Regions from separate parts of the Homo sapiens genome. Here regions 2 and 3 are each linked to region 1. The links come from fine-mapping of genetic effects on gene expression. A gene starts in region 1. Each other region holds a variant in brackets. All regions are shown on one strand. Distances are between the middles of the regions.

Region 1 (8,686 bases):
TGAATGAACTGCATCATAACTGCCTGGCTATGTCTGCCTCTGCCCTGGGTTGAGAGCTGCTTGAAGCAGGCACCAGCTCTGCTTCACCTCTGGATCCAGAGCTGACTCTTGGTGGTGAATGGTGCCAAGGGCCTGTCGCCGTGTGTGGGTGTGATCGGGTGTGACTCATGTGTGACTGTGGGACCATGTGTAGGTGTAGGTGTGATCAAGTGTGCCTGCGAGTGTGTGACTAGGTGTGGTTGTGACTGTGGGTGACAGTGTGTGACTGTGTGTTTGTGGTTAGGGGTGAGTGGGCGAGATGGTGCAGGTGGGAGGCAGATAGGGTTTCAGGAACTCTTCTCTGGCTGCTCTTCACTGGGGTTAAGTTTGTAAGTTTGAGGGCAGACCTTCCATCAGGGGTCTAAACTCTAATATACACAGAGGCCAAACATAGTATAAATGAGAGATAAGGGCTGACAGATATAATAAAATACAGAGTGTTGGGAACAATGGCAAACAGAGAGCCTCTGTACCAGTGAAGGGGCAGCAGCAACATAGCTGCAGCCAATACCGTGGGCCCAAGGTTTAGCAGAAGTAGAAATCTATATTTTATGTCACATTTCCTCCATTCTCCCGTGTGTCGTAGGCCCTGGCCTGGGAGCTGCTAGCGTGGAGCCCATGCCCTCTGTTTCCCAAGGCCGTGGCCCTATGGCACTAGGCAAATGGGGACCCATAAGGATCAGCAGGGGCTGGCTCTCCTCGGACGAGGACACTCCTGGGTCTCTCTCCTGGGGCCCGCTAGCCCAGGTGGGTAAGGAGATGGTCCCATCACAGGGAACTTGCTCCCTCATTCGTCTGCCAGGAAGGCGCCTCCTACAGGTGTCCCAGGCTGGACACTGGACTCACGTATTCCTGAGCAAAGTCAATGAGGTTCTGGAGGTCAATGTCGTCCCGGTAGGCCTTGACGTTGTTGTTGATGAAGAGGTTGAGCTGGTCTCGAATCCAGTCCTTGAAGACAAAGGCCAGGATCCCTGTTGCCAGCTCCAGGAAGAAGATGAGACCGAGGAACACGGAGAACTGGGGTTGGGCATACAGACAGTAGGGGTTGGAAACGCAGGGCTCTGGTGACCTCCCAGGGCTTGGGTGTGCCACAGGGAAGGGCTCCATCCCTACCTCCACCAAGACCCAGAGGCGCCCAGAGCCCCCACCTTCTATTATTTTAGTATTGTTATATGATGGTAATAGGCATCTGTTGTTACCTACCCATCCAATTCCCTTTGTCTGGTAATCACACCCTGCTGTCTCTGAAAAACCATCCTCCATGCAAACCTTTAGTTTCCAAGGTTCGGATGGAGACACCTCCCCAAACCCACCAGTCCCAGATACAGGACTGGCAAGTGCCTAAAGCCCACCAATCAGAGCACTGCCTCCCTCGGCCTCCAGGGATTGGTCCAGAGGCAGCCAATCAGAGCCAAGGAAACGCAATTAAAGCACTTTGGGAAAACGGTTGGGAAGAGAGCTCTCAGCCTCCAGCAGGAGTTCCTGGGAGGGCATGGGGAAGCCGGCTCTGTTCCTGAGCCTCCTGCCACCTGGGAATGGAGCCAAACGGGGGGAGCCCGAGAAACAGGGAGAAACCAGGCCAAGTGAAACTGTGGCAGCCCCTGGATCAAAATGCACCGGCAGCCAGCACAACCCTGGACTTTTCTTATTTGAGTCAATAAATATTTTATGCTTGGGCCACCAGGTCTCGGTCACTTACCATACCACGGAAAGGATCCTAGTAAATATAGACAACATGAATCTAACGATGACGATTATAGCATAATAATAAAGCTACCCATCATTAAGCTCCAACTGTATTGCAAGAACTGGATGGGAGGAGATGGGGGTTCCCAGGGGATCTTGAGGGCAGCACTCACAAACTTGAGCAGGAAGGTGTTCTCCCGGAGGGCCCCAATGCAGCCAGCAAAGCCCAGCACCGACATGACGCCTCCAACTACCACAAACAGCCACACGGGGTCAAGGCCTCCCAGATCTGTCAGCGCTGAGATGTTCGAGAGAACGCCCTGTGCCGGGCAGCAGAGGCAGGTGTGGGGAGCTGACCTTCCCACCACCTCGTCCCATACCAGCTCCACGCCCGCCCGCTGCCTTACCTTCTCACCCCAGGCCCAGAGGCCGATAGCCAGGAACAGGGCTCCCAGCACCTGCAAGGGCAGCAACAAAGAGCTCAGGGCTGGGAGCAGCCCCAGGACCCTCCCCCCTCATCCTTCCCCGGTAGCCAGGGCCTTTCCAGCGGAGAGAGGAAGAGGCACAAGGGCTGTGAACGGGATCCGGGGTCCTTTCCATCTTCCCAAGAACACATCCCAGTGCTTCTTCCCCACAGGACACAGCCTGGAGGACTGAACCCTCTGCTAGCCTTGGGATGGACATCAGGGGCCCCTTCCTGGAACTCCAAATTGGAGCAGACGGTGGCCAAGACACTCCTGCCAAGGAGCAATAGCAGCTGTGTCAGCGGGGGTAGCGACGGCGCCAGTATACTGAGCCTCTACACCTGACCGAAGCTGGTGCTGGGGTTCCAGGCTCCTAGCCTCCTTTCTGCACCCTGCCAAGTCCAGCTCTCCTGCTACCCTAAAGCCGTGTGACTGCGGCCCCGCCCTCAACACTCCTCCCCAGCCCAGCCCCATCCTACCCCTTTAACCTCCGCCTGCCAGAGTCAGCTTCCACGGCTCACGACCAGACACCCCTGAATGACAGGAATCTCAATCATCCCTAGCAGGATCCACCTAGGATCTGGCCTGTGCCAGTGGCTTTGCCCCATGGCCACAGCTCTGCCTGGGCCTTCAGAACACCAGCTAGACTCCCCACCGGGGCAGTCCAAGTGCCTCTCCTCCATCCTCAGCTTTCCCACCTTCCTGCCTCAATTCCCTACTGGGAAGAGCCCTGGATGTCCAGGCTGGTCACTCTCACACCTGACCCTGGGCAGGTCCCTGGGCGTGCAGTCTCAGAGGGGGAAAGGCTGTCGTACCCAAGCCCAGGGCCATGACCCCACCTCCTGCGACCTCCCCACCCACCTGCTTTATCTGCAGGCTCCTTCCCCTCAGCACATAGCCACGGCCAAGGCCTTTATCACCTTCCCTTCCCTGACCGTGGGCTCCCCACACTGCTCTATTCTTTCTCTGGAAACATCTTCCCTTCCCTCCTGCCTGCTGGGTCTGCTGATGTGAAACCAAACATCACTTCTCCTGCCTCCTCCCACTTGGCCTGCCCTTGGCCTTCAGACAGGGGACTGAGTGCCACTTTCTCCTTCCTGAACCCCACCTCAGTTAACTCAACCCCATTCCTCCCCGAGCTCCTTCCCAGGATGCTCCGCCTTCACCTGCCCCGGGGATTGGTCCAGAGGCAGCCAATCAGAGCCAAGGAAATACAATTAAAGCACTTTGGGAAAACAGCTGGGAAGTGAGCTCTCAGCCTCCAGCAGGAGTTCCTGGAGGGCTGTGTTCCTGGAGGGACCACCTGTGGCTGGTCCCACGGCCTCCAGCCTCAGCCTTCTGCCGTTCTTCCTCCTCACGCTCGTCTTCCATCCCATCATGACGCTGGCATCTCCCGATCCCCACCCAGACCTCATGCTGGTCCCACACCCCTACGTCCACCCGCCTGCAGCAAACACCTCCACGACCCACCGGCACTGATCGCCGCCATGCCGGGGATTCGCTGGTGAATAGGACGGACTCGACCCTCACGGAGCTTACACTCCAGCAGGGGAGATGGACAGTCAGTGAGCAGACAAGGAAACCTCAGATGCAAACAGACCCCTTAACAAATATCGAGCGGGGCGACGAGATGGGGGATGCTGGGGTTGGACGCCAGCTTTAGAGAGGGCAGAAGGGAGGGTGGGGGCATTTCAGCTGAGGTTTGAATGATGAAAAGAGCAAGAGGGAAAAGCCTGTTCCAGGAGGAGGGTAGGGCACAGGCAGAGGCCCTGACACAAGACCACGTCTAGTTCAAGGAACAAACTGAAGGGCGGACAGCCCGGCCCCGCGGGGCCCTGGAGGCCGACAGTACTCTAGGAGCAGTAAGAAACCACGAGCAGGATGGCCGGGCGTGGTGGCTCACGCCTGTAATCCCAGCACTTTGGGAGGCCAAGGCAGGTGGATCACCTGAGGTCAGGAGTTCGAGACCAGCCTGACCAACATGAAGAAACCCCATCTCTAGTAAAAATACAAAATTAGCCAGGCGTGGTGGCACACACCTATAGTCCCAGCTACTTGGGAGGCTGAGGCAGGAGAATCGCTTGAACCTGGGAGACGGAGGTTGCAGTGAACCGAGATCGTGCCATTGCACTCCAGCCTGGGCAACAAGAGCAAAACTCTGTCTCAAAAAAAAAAAAGAAAAAAGAAAAAAGGAAACCACAAGCAGTTTCCAAACAGAACAACACCAGGGTCTGCCTGACATTAAACATGAAAACCTCTGTGCCTGTTCCACAAGCAGCCTCCCTTAGGCCACCTTAACCCAAATCTGAAATCCTCCCTCCAGCCCCCAAGTGACCCAGCCCAGTCAATTCAGCCTCTTGACTTTCCCAGCAACCTCCCTCACCTTTCCCACCTCACCATCCCAGCTTTGCCCCAGCCCTGCCCCCATTCCAAACCTCCAGGCCCTGCCCCTCATCCACCCTCCACACAGCAGCCAGGCAAGCGGTCTCCAGAACAGAAGCCAGATCAGACCCATCACTGGAAGCCCTCGCTTCTCCATGCCACCTTAACATAACACCCCACGCTCCGCCCCAGCAACAAACCCGGGTCTCTCACGCCTGCTCCCCCTCGGTATTTGAGGTTACTTCTGCTCACAGCTCTGCCTCACCTCCACCCTCTGCCCACTAAGCCGTCACCTTGGCTCTGTACTTTCTGGCTGTGTGACCCTAGGTAAGTGACTTAATTTCTCTGTGTCTATTCCTTCAGTTTCCCCATCTGTAAAATGCAGATAATAAGGCAGTTGTGAGAATACAACAAATTGAACTCATTGTATCTGCCTAACAGCCCTCACAGGCAGATTCTTTATCGTCGTCTCCCAGGCAGGCAAGCTGAGGCCCGGAGAGGAGAGATGACTTGCCCAAGGTGTCCCAGCCAGGCCTGCTACAGCCAGGCCTTCTGACTTCTTTGCCAGTGCTCCCACACACTGCCCACACCCTCAAGAGCCTAGCGCTGCAGTGCAAGGACACCCACCACACCAGTGAGCTCGGTGACACGTGGGTGGGGGGCAGTGCCACTGAGTCTTGCTGAACACAAGGGAAAAGGCCTGGCATCTTGACCCAAGGCCTCAGGAGCAGAGACTGCAGAGGGCCACGGCTTTGGAGAGATGGGAAAAATGACCTGGCAGGGCCCAGGGGGACAGATGCCACCCTGGGAGGGGCACTAGTAGCTCCCTTCCCCGGTAGGGGCAGACCCGCCCAGGAGCCTCAGCTTGTCAGCTGTGGAATGTTGAATTCTGTTCCCCAAGGCCAGCTCCCAGGCTCTCAACCGGGGAGATCCTCTCCCAGCCGCCAAGGACTCGCCATTGTCCCTCCCTGCCCCTCCTGGCAGGTCAGCCTCCTTGTGCGGGACTGGGGTGGGCAGAGGACTGTGACCCACCCCACTCTGCAGGAGCCTAAGGTGAGGCACCTGACCCAGGTACTACTGGAAGGGAAAGGAGGCCGGGGAAGGGGCCTGGCGGCTCCCTTCACGCCAGAATCTCCTTACCGGCTAAACCAGGGGTGGGGCTTGGCACGCATCCCACATCCCAGGGTAGGAAGGAGGGCTGGGCGAGAGGGGGCAACCTGCACCTAGCACGCCCCTGGGGTCTTCAAGGAAACACCTTCCCTTTCTCCACCAGGCCTCGGGATTATTTAGGGAGACTCCCTACCCCAACCCCGACCCCACGCTGTCGCTAGGACCCGCCCCCAGCAATCCGGGCCTCTGTAGCTACCTCGGGTGGTCCTGGAAGTGGGCGTGGGTGTGGCAGAAGTGGGGGGATGGTCCCGAGCTCCAAACTCTTGGGGCAGGGAGTGGTCTCCCCCAGCAAAAGACTGAATCTCCCTCTCCCACCACCCCCCAGCACAGGGCAAGGCGCAGACCCCGCGCTCACCCAGAAGACAATGTTGAAGCCAAACAGGAAGTATTTCCCGCAGCAGCCGACCTCAGGTTCCTGGAAATGCTGGTGCTTGCCGGGCATGGTGAGCGGCCACCCGCCGGCCCGGAAACCGGAGCCGGGAGCCAGGCCCAGCGCCCCGCGGGCCGCCCTGGGCTAGAGCCGCCCGGGGCCTAGCCGGGCGGCTGCGGCTTCATGGCCTCGGCCACACAGAGCGCCGGTCGGGCCCCGCCCGCCCCTCAGGGACCGCCCTCAGCATCCAGACCTCCTTGCCCGGAGCCCTGCTGTCCCCGCCTCTGGACCGGGCCCCGCCCCCACAGCCCTCAGTCCCTTTGGAGTCCCGCCTCCTGACCTGGCTCCGCCCCCATAGATCAACTCAGTCCCGCCTGAGCCCCGCCTCTGGACCTGGCTCCGCTTCCCGAGCTCCGCCCCCACAGCCTGATTCGGACCTCCTCGCAGCCCCGCCTTCGGCCAGGCCCCGCCCCCGCGCAGGCCGCCGCCGCGTTTCCCAGCGTCCTGCAGACCCGCCCGGGACGCCGGCTGATGGCGCCGGAGGCCGCCGGGGTGTAGAAGCCTTGCTTCCCCTGCTGGGTACCAGCGCCATCCCAATCCCCAGCCTGCTGTTGGAGCCCATCCCAGGGGAAGGTTAACTGCTGCTCTGGCAGGCGAATGGGGAAGCTGGTCCGGATTGAGTTTTTAACACGTGCAGGACGTTTTGTCATTGTGGAGTCGCATCAGGCTCACCTTCACCCAGCGGAAATCCAGCTCTACTTATCCTGACTCAAACTCAGGCCAAACGAGGGCCTGGGCCTTGGTGCCACGCCGGCTGCGCCCTGCCAGGGGCATATGCCCCCCGGAACCTGGCTCAAGCCCCCTTGGTGGCTGAGTTTCCCCAGCCACACCCCCTGTCCTCCATACTGGCCAGGGTCCCGGTCAGGCTCCTTGGTACCCAGTGATCTCACATGAGCCCCTGTAAGACAGGACAGAGGCAGATCAAAGTTTGGGGGAACCTGAATCTTACTCCAGTTTGAAGCCCTCTTAAAAATAATTCCAACTTTGTTCAGAAGTATTTATTTAAAACAGGAACAGAAAGATGCTTAAGCTTTTATTATCAAGTTTATCCACTTCCACCACTTCTACCAGAACCTTGGTGAGGCCTAGCCCAGCATCCCTCCACCTCCACTTCAGTCTGGCCCTGAGGCAGGCAAGGCCCAGACAGCCCTGGTCACAGCTGGGGAGAAGGGGAGCGGCCTTGCAAGGCTCTCTCAGTCCTCAGCAACCCACGTATCCCTCTGTACAAATGATGGCGTTCACCCTCCAGAATGTCTGTGCCCTTGAGCCCACCACCCATGGAAGAGTCTGTCTCTCAGGCCACCTCACCTCCTTCCTGGGTGGAAACAGTAAACGCTGGACTATGGGTTTCTCCGCCTACCATAGAGCCCTCCTTCCCCGCCATGACTCACCCCACCCTCAGGAGTTTTTTCCACCCTGCTGCTGTCCTGTGGCCCCAGGACAAGCTAGGTCCTCAGACTGCCACCACTACCCCCATCTAGCCCCTAAGGCTCAGGCCCCAACTCATGTTAAAGAGTGTTTGCATTCCTGTTCACTTGAGGACAGGTAAGAACTAGGCTGTCTGATCCCCAGTCCCGCCCCATCCCCCAAAGTAATGAGGCTCAGTGGCGGCTGTCCCATTACATAGGAGGGGTGCCAAGGCCCCCCTCACACCACAAACTTGTTCTTGGCTAGGGAGTTGCTCTTGGTGGCTGTGTCTGCATGGGCCTGGTACCCAATGATGGTCTTTGGGGAGAGGCCCAGGCGCTCTTTGTATACACGCCTGCAGGTGCGGGGGACACAGAGGAAAAGAGACACAGGTAGTCATCAGAGGGTCCTAGAGATAACTTAGGCCACCAGACTCCTACCCTCATTCTGGCCACAGCCACACCTGTTGTGTCTTACCCATGTGGAAACCCAAAATATGACCCCCTTAATGCAAAAGGAGAGCTGCACTGCCGTAAGAGAAAGTTAGAAATCTGAACGCCAGACCTTCCATACAGGTGGGCAAGGCAGAAGGGAGGGAGGCTATGGAGACTTTCAGAGGTCTCCCATGCAGGCCAAGCCCCCTCCACCCACCTTCCCTCTAGCAGAGACCCAAGTCCCCACCCTGTGCCAGAGACCCTCCTCACCCAACGTGCAGCACGCCCGCCTGGTTTTCCGCCTCCCTCGTCCACACAGCGATCTTGTCCCCCTTGGTGCGGATGTTGACGACGGCCCCACATACCTCTCTGCTGTGTTCCTCAAAGCTCTCCCCGATCAGACACAGCAGCTGGACCCGAAGTAGGGGGTTGTGAGATCACCGGCTGGGACATAGGGACTGGCCTGCCATCCTTGAGACCACTGCCACCATGAGACCCACACAGCCCGTCTCTTCCCCTGAGGACCCTCCTCCTCCAACTCACCGTCTCCAGCCACAGCCGGTCCAGCTCAATGTGGCGCTGCTGCTTGGCCAGGCTGACCAGCCAGCGGCCACCCCGTTTATTCCTGCTGTCCTCCCACATGGGCTGGATGCCATCCTGCAAGGCAGATGGCA
Region 2 (10,666 bases), 33 kb before region 1:
TCCCCGCCTCTGAGGCCCATAAAAGCCCTGGGCTCAGCCAGAGCTGAGCAGACAGTGGGATGACTAGCAGCAGAGAGGAGCTTCACACTCCAGGGTCTCCTCTCTGCTAGGAGCTGAACACTCATTGGGACACCCTGGCTGCAGAAAGGAGCTACCCCCTGTAGGTCTCCTGTGAGTTGTTCTGTTGCTCAGTAAGCTCTTCTTCATCTTGCTCACCCTGCACTTGTTTGCATACCTCATTCTTTCTGGCTGCAGGAGAAGAACTCGGGACCGCCAAATGGTGGAGCTAAAAGAGCTATAACATGAACAGGGCTGAAACACGGCCCTTGCTCACCACATTGCAGGCGAAGAGGAGAGAAGACCTGCAGCCCTTTAGGGAGCCCAGACCTGGGAGGCCTCTCTGAGCTAGGGCTGTGACTCCCTCTTTGGGGTCCTGCAGTGCCTGGAATCTCCAAGCTTCTGGGTGCCACTGCATTTCCCAGTGCCAGCCGGGGAAGCTACCTGCAATGCACCTGGTCCAGCCACAGCCTCACAGAGAGCCGGCACCTGTGCTGCCCTCCCCACTGCAGGTGTGTCTGACTGCACAGAGGCGGGACCCCACACTTGCTCACACACCCCTCACCGCTCCACGCCTGACTCGTCCTTGGCAGATGTGGGATCCAGGCTGGTAGTGTGAGCCGAGTGCAGCCTGCCAGGCCGAGTGGGTGGAACAAGCCAGTGGGCCTGAGCAAAACTTGGGCAAAGGCACCACCGCCAGAGGTTTCAGGCCAGAAAGTGACACCCCAAAGATTCCGTGACATTGCTGTTAAGTTTTGACAGTTCTTTATATGCTCTGAATACAAATCTCTTGTTGGATATGTGGTTTGTAAATATTTTCTCCAAGTCCATAGCTTGTCTTTTTATTCTCTTAACAGTCTCTTTCTCAAAGCAAAAGTTTTAATTTTGATGAAACTCGATTTATCCTTTTATAGACTGTTTTTAATAGCATGCCTACAAACTCTTTGTCTAATCACAGGTCATAAAGATGACCTTCTATGTTTCCATTCAAAAGTTTTATCTATAATCTATTTAGAGTCCATTTTTGAGGTCTGGCATGGTGGCTCACACCTGTAATCCTAGCACTTTGGGAGGCCAAGGCAGGAGGATCACTTAAGCCAGGGAGTCTGAGACCAACCAGCATGGGCAACATGGTGAGACCCCTTCTCTACAAATAAAAAATTAGCCAGGCATGGCTGGGCGTGGTGGCTCACACCTGTAATCTCAGCACTTTGGGAGGCCGAGGCGGGTGGATCATGAGGTCAAGAGATCGAGATCATCCTGGCTAACACAGTGAAACCCTGTCTCTACTAAAAACACACAAAAAAAATTTGCTGGGCATGGTGGCAGGCGCCTGTAGTCCCAGCTACTCAGGAGGCTGAGGCAGGAGAATGGCGTGAACCCGGGAGGTGGAACTTGCAATGAGCCGAGATCGCGCCACTGCACTCCAACCTGGGTGACAGAGCAAAACTCCATCTCAAAAAAAAAAAAAAAAAAAAATAGCCAGGCATGGTGGAGCACACCTATGGTCCCAGCTACTCAGGAGGCTGAGGTAGGAGCATCATCTGAGCCCAGGAGGTCAAGGCTGCAGTGAGCTGTGATTGACCACTGCACTCCAGCCTAGGAGACAGGATGAGACCCTTCCTCAAAAAAGAAAAAATAGAGTTAATTTTTGTGTAAAATGTAAGGCTTAAGTTATTTGTTTTCCTATGAATGTATTTGATTTTAATTTATTTATTTAACTTTTTACTATATCTCTTTGAATAGTTTTTTTAGAGGTTGTTCTAGAAAATGCAATAGACATACTTAACTCTTCTCAGTCTACTTCATGTGAAGTGTAAAGAACTTACTGCTGTGTAGGTCCCTTTATCCTCTCCCTTTTATGTTATATTTGTCTTCTATATTACATCTACAGCCACTGAAAACCCTACCACACAATGTTTTTTTGTTTGTTTGTTTTAACCGTCAGACATATTTTAAAGAGCTCAACAAGAGAAAAAATAGCCTATTATATTTATCCAAATATTTACCATTTCCTCTGCTCTCCATTTATTCCTGATGTTACACATTTCCTTCTACTATGATCTCTTTCTGTCTAAAGAATTTGTTGTAGCAGTCTTTTAGTGCAAGTCTCCCAGTAACAAATCCTCCTAGCATTCCTTCATCTGAAAATGTCTTTATTTTACCTTCATCCAGAAGGTATTTCTTCTAAAGACTTATGATTTGACAGTTCTTTTCTTATTTTGTTTTGTTTTGTTTAAGCACCTTAAAACTGTCGTTCCACTTTTGCTGGCCTTCATGGTTTCTGATGAGAAATCCAGAGTCATTTGAATCATTTTTCCCCTATAGGAAATGTGTCATTTTTTTGGGCTTGCTTTCAAGATTTTGTCTTCATTTTTCATTGTCAGAAGTTTGATTATGATTTTCTGGTCACAGATTTCTTTGGGTTTCTTCTGTTTAGGATTCACTGAGCTTATTACATCTGTAGGTTTATGTTTTTCACCAAAGTTGGAAAATTTTCACCATGATTTCTTTACATATTTTTTCCAGACCCTATTTATTTCTTCTCTCCTTCCAGAATTCAAATGATAAGAATGTTAGAACTTTTGGTGTTTCCTCATGGGTCCCTGAAGTTCTGCTCATTTTTTAAACACTCTTTTTTGCCTGTCATTCAAATTGGATGACTTCTATTGATCTATCTTCAAGTTCACTGGATTCTTCCTCTATCATCTCCATTTTGCTATTGAGCCCATCCAGGGAGATTCTTGTTATTGTCTTTTGCAGTTCTAAATTTCCACTTGGTTCTTCTTGGTATCTTGTTTCTTGGCTGAGACTTTCCATTCATTTCAAGAGTGTTTGCTCTTACACATTGCACCACTTTCATAATAGATGCTGTAAAGTCTGATATCTCAGCAAAGTAGCCTCAGCATTGGCATCTTTTCCTGAGTGAGTTGAGCCTTTCCTGGTTCTTTTTTTTTTCTTTTTGAGATGGAGACTTGCTCTGTCACCCAGGTTGGAGTGCAGTGGCACAATCTCAGCTCACTGCAACCTCCACATCCCTAGTTCAAGCGATTCTCCGTCTCAGCCTCCTGAATAGCTGGAATTGCCTGAGTCACTGGAATTATAGGCACACGCCACCACACCCAGCTGATTTTTGTATTTTTAGTAGAGATGGGGTTTCACCATGTTGGCCAGGCTTGTCTCAAACCCCTGACCTCAGGTGATCCACCCACCTTGGCCTCCCAAAGTGCTGAGATTACAGGTATGAGCCACTGTGCCCAGCCACTCCTGGTTCTTTCTATATAGAGAAATTTTTGGTATTTTTCTGTTAGCAGGCAAATGATCCAGGTGAGTTCAGGTCATAAGTTCCCAACAGCCTCCTGTGGCCTGTGGTTCCAATGTCAGTTCAATTTACAAAGTTTTGCTATTTATTCATTTTTTTATTACTTATTTTATTTTTTTGCTATTTCACTATTTGAATCTGCCCCGTATGTACCACCCCATGGCTAATCTGGGATTTGAGCAGTGCACTATCCCGTAGTTCAGTTCTCAAGTATGCAGTTTAAGGTCTAATCCTGTACAGATCATGCACATTTTGGGAAGGAGCCCAGGATTTCACAAACAACTTTAAGGGATCACTTTTTCCAGCTCTTCTCTCTCTGAGATCTCTCCTATACTTTCTGGTTCACTGAGGTTCCCCTTGTCCAGTGCTTGGGCCAGAAATCTGGGGCTTTATTTCTCCTCTGCCATGCATTTCCTGTGACTGTATGAGTTGAGCCCAAGCACCAGAGATAGCAAAGCAGCAGGGGTTTGCCCCACCTTCATGGACCACGGCTCCTCCAACTGGAGAGGAAAATTCCCCTTCCTTAGAGTTTTAGGTTCCCGCCAGCTTTCGCTGCTGCTGTTGCTACTGTTGCTAGTGCTACTGCCACATCATTGCTTAGGGGCTGTGGCAGGAGAGAATAGAAAAAGAGAAAAAGAAAAAAAAATAGGAGGCTTCTTCACTCACCGGGAGCAGTGGAAGACCCCTTTCTTGGTCCCGAAGCCAGAATCAGAGGGTTTTCCCTGGAGATCTCTCTATAGATGCTGATATCCACTTCAAGGTTTTTGGCTGCATTGAATTCAGGGGTTTCAATTCAGGGGATATTGGATGGGGGAAAAATAGTAAACTTACCACCAATTTGGTGTTACTTTGATAACTGGTCTTTTTTTCAGAGACTTAAAGGAGGTAATTCATGCAATTAGTCCAGGTTTGAAGCTGCATTTTGTGGGAGAGACAAGGTGGAGTGTGTCTACTTCATCTTACCTCCAACTAGAACCTCCCCACTAATTTTTAACAGACCCAGTGCATGCATACATGGTGCTAAAGCCATCACCGAGTAAGCGCCTCTTATGTCAGGCACACCAACAGAGTTTTATGCTCACAGACTTATGCTCAGGCAGCTCAGGGTTTGAGCCCCTGGCCCTCCATCCAGCTGTGTGATGCCAGGCAAGAATCCAAATGTATATGATCCTCAGTTTTCTTGCCTGTAAAACAGGGACAATTGTATGAGGTAGCAAGGTTGAGACACCGTAACATCTATAAAGCTCTTTATCTCAAGACCTAGCACATAATAAATGCTCAAGAAATAATAGCTACTTTTGGTATATTATTATTATTACTCATTTTGTTGCAAGCAGAGTCCTGGGGTTGCAAGCTACAGAGAGACTCTGCCCATATTAAGCAAAAAGGGAAGGTAAATTTGGGGTTATCTGAATCCACGGAGGCTGGGGGACCAAATCTGAGAGCACCAAGGACTGAAGACTGGTTGAGGGTCTCAGCTGAGTTTACTTCTGGCCCCACAGCCTGGGACAAGCTGCCCTAGAGCTTCCACTGTGAGAGGTAGCACCATCACTGCTCTCCTCAAAGACCACACTTGGTGGGGAACTTTCCAGAGGGAAACGGGGACTAACAAGCAAGGGGGGCACAGGTTCTAGAAAACCCCCCACAATAAAAAACCCTTCCCTCTTATTAGTTATAAGACCAAAGGCAATTAACCTAACCTCTCTGCATGTCTGTTTTCTCACCTGTAAAGTAAGGCAAATAATATGAACTGAAGACTTAATCTGATAATGTCAGAAAGGAATGATGACTCAGGATCAGGCAACGAGCAAGTGCTCGATTATAAAGTATGATGATGATGATTACATATGGCTGCACATTCAATCCTCACAACCACCCCTGGGTGTTATTGACCTCGCTCTCTGGATGGAGAAACTCACAGGGAGGCAGTGATCTGGCCAAGGACATGCTATGGCCTTGGATCTAAACACAGGTGGGACTGCCTTTTAAAACTGGTTTTATTCCCTAAAAACCTTACCTGTCCTCATCGTGGGGGATGATCAGAGTGCCATCAATGTTGGGCAGGCACCCAGTGTGTGTGGCTGACGGGATGGATGGTAACCACGCAGGGCAACATTTGAGGAAGAGGGTCGTATAAGGAGGTGGAGGTGGTGGGAGCTCCTCCACCTGAGATCTGCATTATGTTGGAAGCAAAGTGCTGCATGCAGAGGGGTTTCACCCGGGTGTGCAAAGCCCTCAGCACACCTGCGTTCTGCTATGTATTTTACTCATGAAAAATGTCAGTTATTTGGATGAGGCTGTCAGGATGAGAAATTTGATGACTGACCCACTTGACGACTTAAGATAGGATCCCCACAGAGTCTATGGGTCATGAGATTTGGCGGGAAGGCCTCTGAGCTGACCAGTCTCATCTAAGACCAGTTGATTGGTCCCATCTGGAGGGCATAGCTGGGGTAGGGTGGGGGTCAGAGCTGGGCTACAGCAGGACAAGAAGGCTGGGGCAGGGGAGACAGAGGGTCCCTGCGGATCTACTGTAGGGCAGGAGGTGATGGTGCTGTAGATGGCACTCAGTTTCTTTCCACTTTTTTTCTTTTTCTTTTTCTTTTTCTTTTTCTTTTTCCACTTAAGAAAAAGCTGTAATGAGACAGCCTATGGAACAGCAAGATTGATTGTGTCGTTCTGGCCTTTGAGGGAAGAAGGGGGAAAAAATCAAATTATCGGACAGGGTCCTTTTAAGAAGCTGCGGCTTTAATTTATTTTCTTATATTTTGTCAATAGCTGTTGTTTTTTTCTTAAACAAGTGCTGCACTTTATAAATGGATTTGCTTGGGCAAAACAAACACAGTCATTTCATACTTTTCCTTCCCTCTAAAACTTACTTAAAATACGGTGAGTGGCTAAGATGGACCCCCAGGGCCTGACCACCACTCAGAAAGGTGACCCGTGGCTTTAGAAAGACACCCGGCCCTGGGAGGCGGGACAGGAAGAGGGATGGATGCAGCAGCAGACCCGTGGCAGATAATCACTTCCCCGCCATGCAGCTTTTGGGGGCTCCAAAATCTCCTGGGAGAACTTTTTTGGTTTTTTTTGAGACGGAGTTTGTCTCTGTCGCCAGGCTGGAGTGCAGTGGCACGACCTCGGCTCACTGCAAGCTCCGCCTCCCGGGTTCAAGCGATTCTCCTGCCTCAGCCTCCCTAGCAGCTGGGATTACAGGCGCGCGCCACCCTGTCCGGCTAATTTTTGTATTTTTAGTAGAGACTGGGTTTCACCATGTTGGCCAGGCTGGTCTCCATCTCCTGACCTCGTGATCCGCCCGCCTCCGCCTCCCAAAGTGCTGGGATTACAGGCGTGAGCCACCGCGCCCAACCGGCAACATTTTTAAAGCACAGATTGCCCCACCCACCGGTGAAGAGTCTGATTTCCTGGGCCTGGAGGGTGGCCCCAGACTTGGGGTGTTTAAAGCTCAGGTGACTGGATAGTAAAGCAGCCAGGAAGCTCAAATTCCAGCCCCTCAGCCTGGCCTTCCTGCCACCCCTGGGCAGCCACGCTGCCCTGGTCCCCACTCCACCCCAAGTGCCCTGGACTCCTTCAGGGGCCCCCAGCTTCTGCACCTCTGCTTCCTTGGCCTGCAATGTGGACTCACCTTTTCAAGTGGTTGAGTCTCATCCACTTGATTATAATTCTGGGTAGTCATCACCATCCATTCATTCATTCATCACCATCATCATTCATTCAGCTGTTCATTGAAAATTTATTTATTCAACACTTTTATATGCCAGCCTTTATGTACCAGAGTAATATACAAAGATAAAAACAAAAAGAGAGAGTCCTTGGCCTCCAGAAGCCCGTGGAACAGCTGGGCCACAGTCTCCCTTGGCCTCTGCTGTGCCCCACGCAGAGCAGGGGTCTCAAGCCCCAATGTCCCCTGGGGTCTGGCGAGGCGCTGGGTGACTGAAGAGGGCAGCCGGGCCTTCTAAACGGGGCTGCCCCCCAGGTTTGCCTTGTGGAAGGCCACCCGGTGTCGACTGCCCGTTTTTCAGGAGAAGCCAGCAGTCCAAGTATTTCCATGAACCCTGGCTTTTTAATGTGACTGGTTTTCTTTAAATCCACCCTCCCTGGGGGCCACACGGAGCTTTTCTGCCTGGACCCTCTGCTGCCGGGTCCCCAGTCTCCAATCCTCGCGGATCCCAAAGGCGGAGCTCAGGCCCCGTGGCGCAGGAGCCATCCGGGTGGGCGAGGCCCTGACCGGATGCCTTCCCCCGGGACCCGGCTCGCTCCCCTCGCCCTGCAGCTCGGCTGAGACGCCTCCCTGAGACACCGCCCCGCGCCCGGGAGCCGGCCCAGGCGGGTGGGTGCCTTTCTCCGACAGCGGCGGCTCCCGGGAGGCGCACTCCACGCCGCTGGTTCTGCGGCCTCCAGTAATAAATTGCAGCGGAGGCGAGAGTTGAGCTGCAGGGCGGGAGGTGCGGGTTGAGGCTGGAGGCTGCGA[C/A]TCGAACCCCGACAGGGGACAGCGAAGTGAAGCGGGGCGGATGGACGGACAGGCTGCGGGGTACGGGGTGCGGGGCGGGCAGGGAGCTGGACCCCAGTCCCATCCTCTGAGCTGCGGGGAGGCGCTAAGGCCGGAGCAGAGCGGCACTGCAGCCTGCAGGGGTCTAAACAGGGATCCCCTAGGTCCTCCACGGATTAAACAAGATGAAGCCTGAGCCTGGCCTCTCTCTTCCTCTGCACACCCAGTCACGTCCCCAGACCCTTAGCAGGACGAGCCTTGCTCACTCACGCTTGGCGTCCGAGATGCCTCGGATATGTCCTCCTCCCGGTGTTGACAGCCTCCTGCCTGGTAGCTGGCAGAGCCCCAGGGTGACAGGGAGAGGAGCTAGCCTGGCCCTGTAAGGAGTCTGGGGATCCCAGGCAGGGGGATGTTCGGAGGGGAGCAGTGGGGCCCACGGAGACACCCACTCATCAGGTCACCAGCCACCAAGACAGCCCCTCCTAACTCCTGTGGGAGGGGCCTGGACAGAATGGATGGGGGTAACTTAGAGTCCCCATGTGCCCCCACTGAGGCAGAATGTATGTCTTGAAGCAGAGGGGTCACCAGATTGGTCCTGGGACGTGACGGGGGACCCTGGTGGTCTAAGAGGGGCATGCGGCAGGGATGGATCCTGTACCAGGCAGGACGGAGGACTATGTGGAGCCAGTGTGGAAGGCAGAGACCCCTGGGTTGTGGGTGCAGCGTTGAGGTCACACAGATGTCTGGGGAGTTTGGCCCCACTCGAGGCCTTGACCCTTCCTGGGTCCCTCCTCCACCTGAGTGCAACCACAAATGGACCAAGAACACCCCAAAATGGGCCAAATTTATCCTGAATTTACTCTAATGGGGACTCAAGACAGAAATTAAGTTTTGTTTTAGAAAACCTTAGCAGGGATTTTGCACCCCCAAGATGGGTTTGTGACCTTGGAGACTCTGCCCCACACCAGGCACAGAGTTCTCAGTAGCATTCGGTGTCCAGGCAGGGACTGCTGAGCCTCTGCTCTGTGCTGGGCCCTGGCTTGGGAAGGAGCGCAACAAGGTCCCTGCTCTTGGCGGCTGATATCAGAGGAGGAGATGGTCAGTTAAAGTAGCTCAGGAGCTCATCTCGGATGGTGGTGAGTGCTGGGAAGAAACGCAGACATAGGGAAGGCCCTGGGACAGGACTGGGGACTGCTTTAAAGGGAGCCAAGTTGGCCTCTCTGAGTAGGGCCACTGGGCTGAGCCTCAGATGAGAGGAGCTGAAGGTGAAGGTCAGAGGAGAAGGCACCCCAGGGAAGTGAGCAGCAGGTGCAAAGGGCCTGGCAGGGGCCTGGGCCCAGCTTGGGGAGATCAGCAAGGAGGGGCCCACGGGCGCTCACTGCTCAGCTCAGCCATCTTGGCAGACAGCCAGCTTCCCTCGGCCAACAGTTCCAACAAGGGTGCAAGAATATAGCCCCATTGGCCAGGCCTGAAGCCAGAGGCCAGGGTCAGCACTGCCTAAACTACTGGGAGATGAAGGTTTCCCAAGTGAGAACCAGGAAGGAGAAAGATGTGGGCCAGGCAGACATGTGGAGCCCACCTTGTTTGGGGTGAGGACCGGAGGCTCCGATTGCTTAGGGAATATGCCCAGGAACCGGAAGTGGATTCTGGCTCTTAAGTCTGCTGACCACCGCCCAGTGCCTCCTCTGAGCCTTCCTCTGTCCCAGCCTCCTCCAGGCCTCTCCCTCTCCTCTGGCCACCAGGTCACCCAGGCACCCGGGACTGCCTCTTTCCTTCCTAGTCATCACTACCTGCCCTCCCAGCTCTTGCCTGCTCCTGGCAACATCCTCACCAAAGGGGGACTTGGGGAGCAGGAAGATAGATGGCTGTGTTCACCACTCACCCAGCCCTCTCTGTTCCCCTGACACCTACCCCCAGGAGGGAGAGCGAGGAGGAAATGCTCAGGTACACACCAGTGCCCATCACATGACCAGGGACGGGGAGGAAGAGCCACCCCACCAAAGGCTGCATTCACTGTCCCTCATTCAGCCCTGGATTGTGGGTGTGAATGTTCAGGCCACTCACGCAGGTGTGCCAAAACCACCACCTTACTTTCCTACTATATGCATGCTTCCTTTCCAACCTCCGTTTTCTACTGAGTAGCAGAAAAGTCTTGAGTTCAGTTCAGCTCTGTCAGCTTCAACTCAGAAGATTCAGGGCCCCCTCCCCCATCTCTTGGACCCCACAGATCCCAGCAAATATGGGTGACATCATAAACATCAGGGGAGGTGGCAGATGGGTCATCGGTCGATGTCATCCCTGCTGGCACCCCCAAGACATACACTGGGACATGTGGTTCTTGGCTGTCATCTCTGTTCCGAGTTGGCAGCCGATGAGCTGTCTGCGTCCCCATCTGGTCTCTGCTTGTAAGGGCCAAGCAAGTTTTGGCTGTGGCCTCCTCTTGTCACAACTGGGACTCCCTTCCAGGCCCTCCTTGAGAACTTGGCCGCTCCCTACAGGGCACTGGGGCTGGGGAGCTCGCTGGGCTGTCACAGGCCCTCTGTTGAGCCACCACCGCTCACTCCCTGTCTAGAGTCTCCTGGCCTTCTCAGGGCACAGGGCACCTGGGGACCTTGCCCCTCCCAGGAAATGAGGTTCAGCCCCACCAATCCCGAGATCAGAGCTGCAGCTGCCCCTGGGGGCTTATCCTTCCCCAGGCGTACCCCCACCCAGCCCAGGAGAGCCCTCTCCCTTAGTTCCTTATATTCTTCTGTCCTCCACAGCTAGACAATGTTTAACCT
Region 3 (8,270 bases), 21 kb before region 1:
TTGCAGCTGGACTCTTAAGAGGGTTCCGGAACCTAAGAGTCTCCCAGGATAGAGAGCCCAGTTCCCACCAGGCCACCCGCCTCCTTCCCCCACCTGCTCCCATCACATCTCTGAGGGCTGGGACCAAGTGCCATCCCATGGTGGGGGATGGGGGGCCTGAGCAGGGAGCCTCAGCCCCATACCTGGTAGGCCTTGAGTTGTCTCCCATGCTCGGAGGGAACCCCCTCCCTGTCTCTGTGCTGCTGTCAGGGAGCCAGGGCCCCTGGAGGACTCTCTATGCCCATGCTCTGCACACCCCTGCCCTGTGCTGGCACCACCCAGAGACCTGAGTTTTGCCTTTACCCTGCCCCCTTGGCTGTGCTGGCGGGCTACCCTGCCAGCCACACCAAGTGCTGCTGGTTCTCACCCAGCCCGAGCCTGCAGCCAGCCTTCACATCCCGGGTCTTGCCCGTTTGCCCTTTGCGTGCCTCCCAGGAACCTCACCCACCCCCACCCAGTGGGGTTGCACCTGGAGCTCCAGGGGTCCCCTGGAGCTCTGTGGGTCCCGCCTTCCCACTTCTGCTCTGACACCCTGTCCAGCCAGGGCTTTGCTGTTCCCCTCTCTGCCACCAACTTGCTGCCCAAGACGACCTCATGGGGAACCTTCGTGCAAGAACAGCTGCGCGCTTCCCCTCGCGGTGGCCAGCTGGCTGCAGCCCCACCACAGACACTTTGGACAGCAATGGGACAGTGTCTCCTCCAGCTGAAAATGCACCCCTCCCCACCGGAGAGTTCACTGCTCACCTGCCCTCAAGAAAGCCTTGCCCAGACCCCTCGAAGCATTCTTTGTCATTGTGAAAAGCTGGAAGCCACCCAAGGGTTCATCGGGGGGCACCGGGGGCTACAGCACAGGACAATCACAGACAGGAGCACCCCGGACAGCTCCAGGAGTGACCCAGACCCACACAAGGCTCAAAAATATGTCCAGTGAGAAAAACCAAGGAGCTGAATGAGACAGCGTGACACCTTTTAAGAAAGGGGTAAAGGGCCAGGTGTGGTGGCTCATGCTTGTAATCCCAGCACTTTGGGAAGATGGCTTGAACGCAGGAATTCAAGACCAGCCTGGGTTGTGAATACAGGGAGACCCCGCCTCTACTAAAAATGAAATTAGCCGGTGTGGTGGTGCACACCTGTAGTCCCAGCTACTCTGGAGGCTGAAGCAGGAGGATCACTTCAGCCCAGGAGGTCAAGGCTGCAGTGAACTGAGAGCACACCACTGCACTCCAGCCTGGGCCACAGAGTGAGACCTTGTCCCAAAAAACAAAAAAAAAAAAAAAAAAAAAAAAAGGGAGGGGGATGGTGGGGTGGGAATTCACAAAAGAGTATTACCTCTTTTAAGGCATCTTTATATATTTGTAAAATCAAGAGGAAAAAATCTTAACAGTTGTTACTTCTGGGAAGGGTAGAGGGCGCTGGGATTGGGGCTGATGGTCACAGGGTCTTTACCTGTGATGTTCTAGTGTTTTCAAAAGGAGAATGGATCCTTGTATGACACGTGTAATTTATCATAACCCAAGAAAGACAAAGAATTCCAACAGCTGGACCACATGCCCCTTGTGCCAGCCTCATTGCTGTTTCCCTCAAGGACCCTCCTGGCTCCCTGAAGCCCCCCCGCCCCATGCCCCGCCACACCCCCTGTCTCGCCCCCCACCCCTCACGCCTCCCTCAGTCCTCTGCCTCTCAATGGACCTAGAGCTGGAGGCTGTTAGATCTTCCATTTAAAACTCCTCTCTGTGCCCGCATTGGGGAGTTTCTTATTCCCTTTCAGATGTAACTGTCTGTCACCAATAATAGTCTTTTTCGATTTCATTTCCTTCAGCTCCTGCCAGCCACTCTGAGAGCCTCCTTCCCATCCCTGCTGCCCCCCCCAGCCCCAAGTCAAGGGAAAAAAATACATTTTTGCCTTTACTATGATGTATGCGATCCCATAAAATAGTGAAACAGATATGAAAGGTTGAGAGAAGGTAGATAAATGGCTCCTATTATTCTACCAATCAAATGAAATACCTCTCCACGTCCTCATTTGAATGATAATAAAACTCGGAGAGGCTGCTGGTTCGCTGTTGTCATTGCTGCCAGCAGCCTTGAGCCGCGGAGCCACAGGCCAAGGTAACCTTGGGGTGTCCTCTGCAGGACCTGCAGGGGCCTGCATACCCCCTACCCCATCTCCTCGCCTCCCCACTGCCTGCCCCGCACAACAGCTCTTCCCCAACCCCACCCTCCCCTTCCTGCCGCACCCCCAGGTCACCTCTGTTTGCCCAGGCCCCTGCTCCCTCCAAGGTCCACAGGGTAGAGCCAGGGCCCAAGAATCAAAACCCAGGGTCTCTCACGCAAGGAATGCCCTCCTTTCTGCCACAGCCTTGGCCCTACACTGCTCAGCCTTCCTGGCCTCCTTTGAAAGCCCCTGCCTGCCGTCCAGGTGGGTCGCCTCTTCGGGCATTCCCCAGCCCTTGCCACACACCTCAGTGACTGGACGGTAGCCTTGTGTGTGC[C/T]AGGTCTCTGCAGCTCTCTTCTAAATTCCTAGCAGGTGGGGCCAGGTGGGACTGCCAAGGCCCATGTGCTGGGCTTCTTTCGTCCCACGTAAACTTCACAAGTGTCCCCCGTGTGGAGACGCTGGATCAGAGAACAGGTGGGAAGTCCTTCCCTGGGCTGGCCACTGGGTAGGTGCCGGCCACTTCTGAGGCTCACAGTGCCGAAGCCTTCTGCTGTTTCTGCCCCTTGGAGTTCACAGTTCTGTTTCCCATGCATTTGAGTGCTTCCGGCAAGCCTCACCTGACACCACTCTCCCACTCCACCCAACCAGGGGACACTTAGGACTTTTTCCTTCCCTGCATTTCCCCCACATTTCGGGGAGCCCACTGCAGGCCAGCTTGGCAGCCTGCCAGTCATGAGACCCACCCTCCACCCTGGTGGGTACTCACCCCTCTGTGCAATTTTGAATCTCAGCAGGATTTCTTATCTGAGTGGCCACACCCTAAAGAGACTTTCCTTCAGTTCTCACCACCCAGCTCCCCAGCGTGGCCCTGACTTCTGCCCTTTCCTTCCAATTAATTCCCCCTTGCATTAAGGCAGTCAAAGTCAGGCCGGGCACTGTGGCTCACACCTGTAATCCCAACACTTTGGGAGGCTGAGGCAGGTGGATTATTTGAGGTTAGGAGTTCAAGACCAACCTGGTCAACATGGTGAAACTCCATCTCTACTAAAAATACAAAAAAAAAAAAAAAAAAAAAAAATTAACCAGGTGTGGTGGCAGGTGCCTGTAATCCCAGCTGCTTGGGAGGCTGAAGCAGGAGAATCACCTGAACCTGGGAGGCAGTTGCAGTAAGCCAAGATTGCACCAGTGCACTGCAGCTTGGGCAACAGAGAGAGACTCTGTCAAAAAAAAAAAAAAAAATAGTAGTCAAAGTCAGTTTTTGGTACCAGGACTGGCCAAAACATGGACAATGCCCCAAGTTGGTCCCCAGAGCATTGGGACTTCCTCTGTCATCTCCAAGATCTGCAACAGTGCATCTGCCTCTCCTCCATCAGGGCAGGGGCCTGTCTGGGCCCCTCTCCTCCCCTGATTTCCAGCCTCAGGGACAGTGCCGGGACCCACAGGAGATGGGGTCAATGACAATGAATGAAACTGTGGAAATGGTACCCATTTTAGAGATGAGGAAGATGAGCCCCAGAGGACAAGCAACAACTCAGCACCCAGATCTTCGTCCTCGTTCCCCGGACCTGGGGCTCTTCCCTCTGCATCAGTTGCTGTCAAGTACCAGGCTGTCCCCAGTCCAGGGCTTCCTTGAGCCAACAGATGGGCAGGAGGTGGAGTCCAGGGGAAGAGCCTGCTAAGAGACAAGCTGGTGCTGAGGCCTCAGGGGCTCGAGGGAGGGGAGCATCCACTGTGGCATGCAGGGATCGCTGAGCGCAAGCAACGGAAAGCTTCTGCGAGGCTTTGGGAGGTTGTCAGGCAGCTCACTGGATGGCTGGGACACAGAAACCTGGAAAGGGTGCAGAGCAAAGGCTGCCTAGAGCCTGCTCTGGCCATTTCTCAGTCCCTGTGTCAGTTCTCTGCACAGGGATCAAAGCCCCACCATAGAGAAGGGCCAGACAAGCCAAGCCCTCAGCATGTGGAGCTCCTCCAGAGAGTGTAAGGCCTTGGTGGCAGCTCATCCCCTGCAAATGCTAGAGGAGGATGAGCCCCCAAAGCAAAAGCCGGTGGCGTCACCTCCAGCAGGGGAATGTATTCAGGGCAGCTGAAGCCCTAGAAGCCAGCCAGCCAGCCCACCCAGCCTGTCAGTCTTGGCTGTAGCCCTGCTCAGCCTGTGAAGGGCTGCAGTGGGGCTGGGGTGCAGCCCGCTGCTGTGGCTCAGGCCCCATAATCACAGGCTTGGAGCTCAGGGATCTCAGAGGGGACTGAATCTGCACTTTGCAGCTGAGGACCTCTAGGCCCCTGGAGAGGCAATGACAGAGCCAAGGCCCTCCCACCCACCATGGGGCCACTCTGAATAGGGACCCCCAGGCCTCCCCCAGGGAAGAGATTGTGCGCCAGTGCCAGTTGCTGTGAGCCATGTGATATTCAGCAGGCCACCATAGCTCTGCTCCGAGCCCAGCTCCTTATGCATAAAATGAGGCTGCTTTGCAGGGCTACTGCAAGCATTAAGCAAGTAATAAATGTATGTGCTCCTAAGCTGACACTTAGAATGGAAATGAAAACATATGTCCACACATGGATTTGTACACGAAAGTTCACAGCAGCTTTGTTCATGATCACCAAAAACTGGAAAGAACCCAAATGCTCCATCAACTGCTGAGTGAATGGAGAAGCTGGCGTAGCCCCACAATGGAATACTCCTCAGCAACAAAAAGAACAACAGGGATGAATCTCAGCAGCGTCATGCTAAGTGACAGAAACCGGACTCAAAAGGTGGCATCTGTATGACTGCATATATGACCGGCTCTCATGCCTGGCAGTAATGTTCTGTGACATTCCCGGGAACACTGAATTCACTGGTATGGAAGCATTGCTCCCAGGGAAATGCAGAGTTAGGTTCCTGAGATCCTCTGCTCACAAGATTTTGGTCACCTGACCAATGCATACATCTGTGGCATGTGTTCTTATGTTTAAAGACACCTTATTTAATATAGAGGCTGTTGATCTGTGAGCATGAACTCATGGCCACAGAACTATAACTCATGACTGAGCAAAGCTCATCCAACACATGCATTTTCTCTGTAAGACACATCGCAGCCTTCTAGCATCAAGGAGCACCAGCCAGGGCCTCACTCTGATGCTTGAGGGCCATTTTCAACAGCGAAATCCCCAACAAAAAGTACAAAAATGCGGGAAAGGTGGCCCTGAGTAGACGGGGGAAAGTCGCTCGTTGAGTTTGACCTCCGCAGGAAATGTGTGCATCCACAAACGAAACTTCTCAGTGCTCTGCTGATGTCCAGGAATGATCACAAAAGTGCCACGAGGATTGATCTGGGGGTTACAAATAAATTTTTGCAAGTCATCAACTTCACAAATATGGAATCCGTGAATACTGAGGATTGACTATATGCAAAACTTTAGAGAAAAAAATAGAAATCTAACCCGCAGTGACAGAAAGCAGCTCAATGTTTGTTTGGCAGCAGGGTAGGAGCAGAGATTGACATAGAAGGACCACAGGGCACCTTCTGGGTGATGGAAATGTTCTCTATCTTGGTGGTTACACAGGGGAATAAATTTGTAAAACCCACTGAAATATGCACCTAAAGTGTGGAGACTTCGATGTATGTAAATTAGACTCAATAAATTGACTTTACAAAAACTCCTTAGCATGATGCCTGATCATTCCTCCACTCCTCTAGGGATCTCGGGATCAGCTCCCTTGGGAGGGGCGCTATGGGACAGAGGAAGAAGCTTGGGCTCCATCTGGAAGTGGTTTGCATCTCGCCCCCACCCCCGAGACAGGGCATGTCTGACCCAGGCCTTCAGCTTCTCCCTTCTTTCCCACTATGTCCATCAGGACTTTCAGTTGAAGATGACAGAAACCCAGCTCGGACCCCCTTAGACAAAACAATGGCTCTGCCATAAGATATGGCTACACCTACAGCTCAAGTGCCATCACCAAGCCAAGGTTGCCCACCTTCTCTGGACTCTATGTTTCTCTGTCAGCCTCACTCTGGGACCACAGGCAGGAAGGTGGTCACCAACAGCTTTTAGAACTCCAAGGGAGGGAGCGGAGCCTCTCTGTCCCAGTGAGGACCCAGGAGCAGGCATCCTTTGTGCCTCTCCACAGCCAAGGCCATGGAATGTGCTGATGTCAGGCCTGGGTCCTATGCCACTCCCTTTGGAGAACAGAAATCAAGGAGGGAGGGATTCTCCCCAAAGGAAAATCTAGGTGCCGCCACCAGAAGCTGGGGGAGAGATGGGGACCAGGCAGATGCAGTAGGTACCCGACACACAGCTTGCCCTGAGCCGGGGCTACCTTTCCTGAGTGTGTCATAGACACATCAAGAACCCAAACCTGGCAGGGAATAAACGAGAAGTGGGAATTAAACTCAATATTCTAGAACCCCATGGAAAACAGCAACATATTCTGACGTTCAGTATCCCAGGGCAAAGAGTGAAAAGACTTCCTCTTCTCCCTGCAGCTCCCCCTGGCTGGAAGACACCGCCTGGCTTGTTCCCCCAGCCCCGTGCTCCCACTTCAGAATCCAGGGGCCATTGAGTCCTCTGCCACAGAGACCCCACCGACCCAAACATCATGCCCCTGATTTTGGATCAACACCAATTATTTTGAAAACAATTTTCCTGGCATCCCAAGGGCTCTCTCATGCTTCTCTGGTCTTATCGTGCTTCTATCTTTTTGGCAGGTCCATGACCAATGGAACTTCTTGACGACCACTGAATATTTCAGACTTTAGCTACTAAAGGATCCATTCTGCTCTGTTACCTTCAAGAACCTTCTTTAAGGATACAATGAATTTTCCTCCAATTTAATAAAATTTATTAGGTATCTGCTTAATTGGAAACAAGAGGACAGAGATGGTTCCTGCCCTTGTCTCCTCCCTGCTAATTTTTATCCTTCTTATTTATTTTCTTGTGTTACTGCATTGGCTAGGACTCTATGACGGTGCTGAATTGTAGCACTGAGTCAGCATCCTTGTCTTGTTCCTGCTGCTGATGTTTCAACATGAAGTATAAAGTTTCTTCCATATGTCTGATATGTGCCCTTTATCAGGTGAAAGAAATTTCCTTTTATTTCTAGTTGCTAAGAAATTGTGATTTTTCTTTTTTTTTAGACAGAGTTTTGCTCTAGTCTCCCAGGCTGGAGTGCAATAGTGCGATCTCGGCTCACTGCAACCTCCGCCTCCCAGGTTCAAGCGATTCTCCTGCCTCAGCCTCCTGAGTAGCTGGGAATTACAGGCATGCGCAATCATGCCCAGCTAATTTTTTTTTTTAAATAGAGGCGGGGTTTCATCATGTTGGACAGGCTGGTCTTGAACTCCTGACCTCAGGTGATCTACCTGCCTCAGCCTTCCAAAGTGCTGGGATTACAGGCGTGAGCCACCACGCCTGGCGATTTTTTTTAAATTATAAATTCCTGCTGTAATTTATCAAATGTTTTTTCAAGATCATATTTTACTAGTATCTGTAATCCAAACAGTATTCTATTTCTTTCCTCTGACAAAGGGACGAGTCTGCTGTGGTCCTTTCATGTGAGACCCTCCCCTGGTTTGCCAGCGCCTGTCCCGTGAGAGTCCAGGGCACGCCTCAGCCCACAGGATCTGTGGCAGCAACATCCAACTTGGGTATTTGATAGCGAGGTCAGCACCTATGACAAAAATCAAAAGAACAGTCAAGATCACCCTTGAAAATTGCTTAAATTGCCCATAAAAAAATACGTGGGTTTTAGGTCTCAGGCCCTGAAAGAATTCTAGAGCGTCCCTGCCTGCTGGGCTGGCTGCCTCCTGCTTCAGTACTGAGCTTTATTGTATAACTTTAAGCTCAGGCCGGGCGCCGTGGCTCACGCCTGTAATCCCAGCACTTTGGAAGGCCAAGGTGGGAGGATCGCTGGAGTCCAGCAGTTCGAAATAAGCCTGGGCAACATAGTGAGACCCCATCTCTACTAAAAAAAAAAAAAAATGAGTCAGGCATGGTGGCACCTGCCTGTGGTCCCAGCTACTCGAGAGCCTGAGGTGGGAGGATCACTTGAGCCCAGGAGTTTGAGGTTGCAGTGAGCCATGATCTCACCACTGCA

The links. PIP is the estimated chance that this variant, and not a neighbour inherited with it, causes the effect.
Region 2: its variant is the best candidate, but not a certain one, in a credible set for the expression of TSPAN17 in CD4 T cells (BLUEPRINT, PIP 0.79).
Region 3: its variant is the best candidate, but not a certain one, in a credible set for the expression of TSPAN17 in whole blood (INTERVAL, PIP 0.73).

The regions. Positions count from the first base shown.
Region 1 is chr5:176,645,113-176,653,798 of GRCh38, reverse strand. It overlaps TSPAN17 (tetraspanin 17), which reads right to left and starts at 6,315. Exons shown (of 9, transcript NM_130465.5): 1 at 6,097-6,315; 2 at 2,133-2,183; 3 at 1,899-2,045; 4 at 886-1,056. The coding sequence starts at 6,183. It overlaps EIF4E1B (eukaryotic translation initiation factor 4E family member 1B), which reads right to left. Exons shown (of 9, transcript NM_001099408.2): 7 at 8,556-8,669; 8 at 8,283-8,422; 9 at 7,155-7,933. The coding sequence ends at 7,819. RefSeq lists enhancers at 2,270-4,068, 4,186-5,055, 7,417-7,711, 7,982-8,492 and a silencer at 6,084-6,743.
Region 2 is chr5:176,677,413-176,688,078 of GRCh38, reverse strand. No RefSeq gene overlaps it. Among named protein-coding and RNA genes, the nearest start is that of TSPAN17, 35 kb to the right of the region's middle. RefSeq lists enhancers at 6,286-7,245, 7,246-8,206. The variant C/A (reference allele first, on the strand shown) is at 7,869.
Region 3 is chr5:176,666,251-176,674,520 of GRCh38, reverse strand. It overlaps LOC124901144 (a long non-coding RNA gene), which reads right to left. Exons shown (of 2, transcript XR_007059072.1): 2 at 6,994-7,844. Among named protein-coding and RNA genes, the nearest start is that of TSPAN17, 23 kb to the right of the region's middle. RefSeq lists enhancers at 1,792-2,355, 2,356-2,921 and a silencer at 7,911-8,137. The variant C/T (reference allele first, on the strand shown) is at 2,532.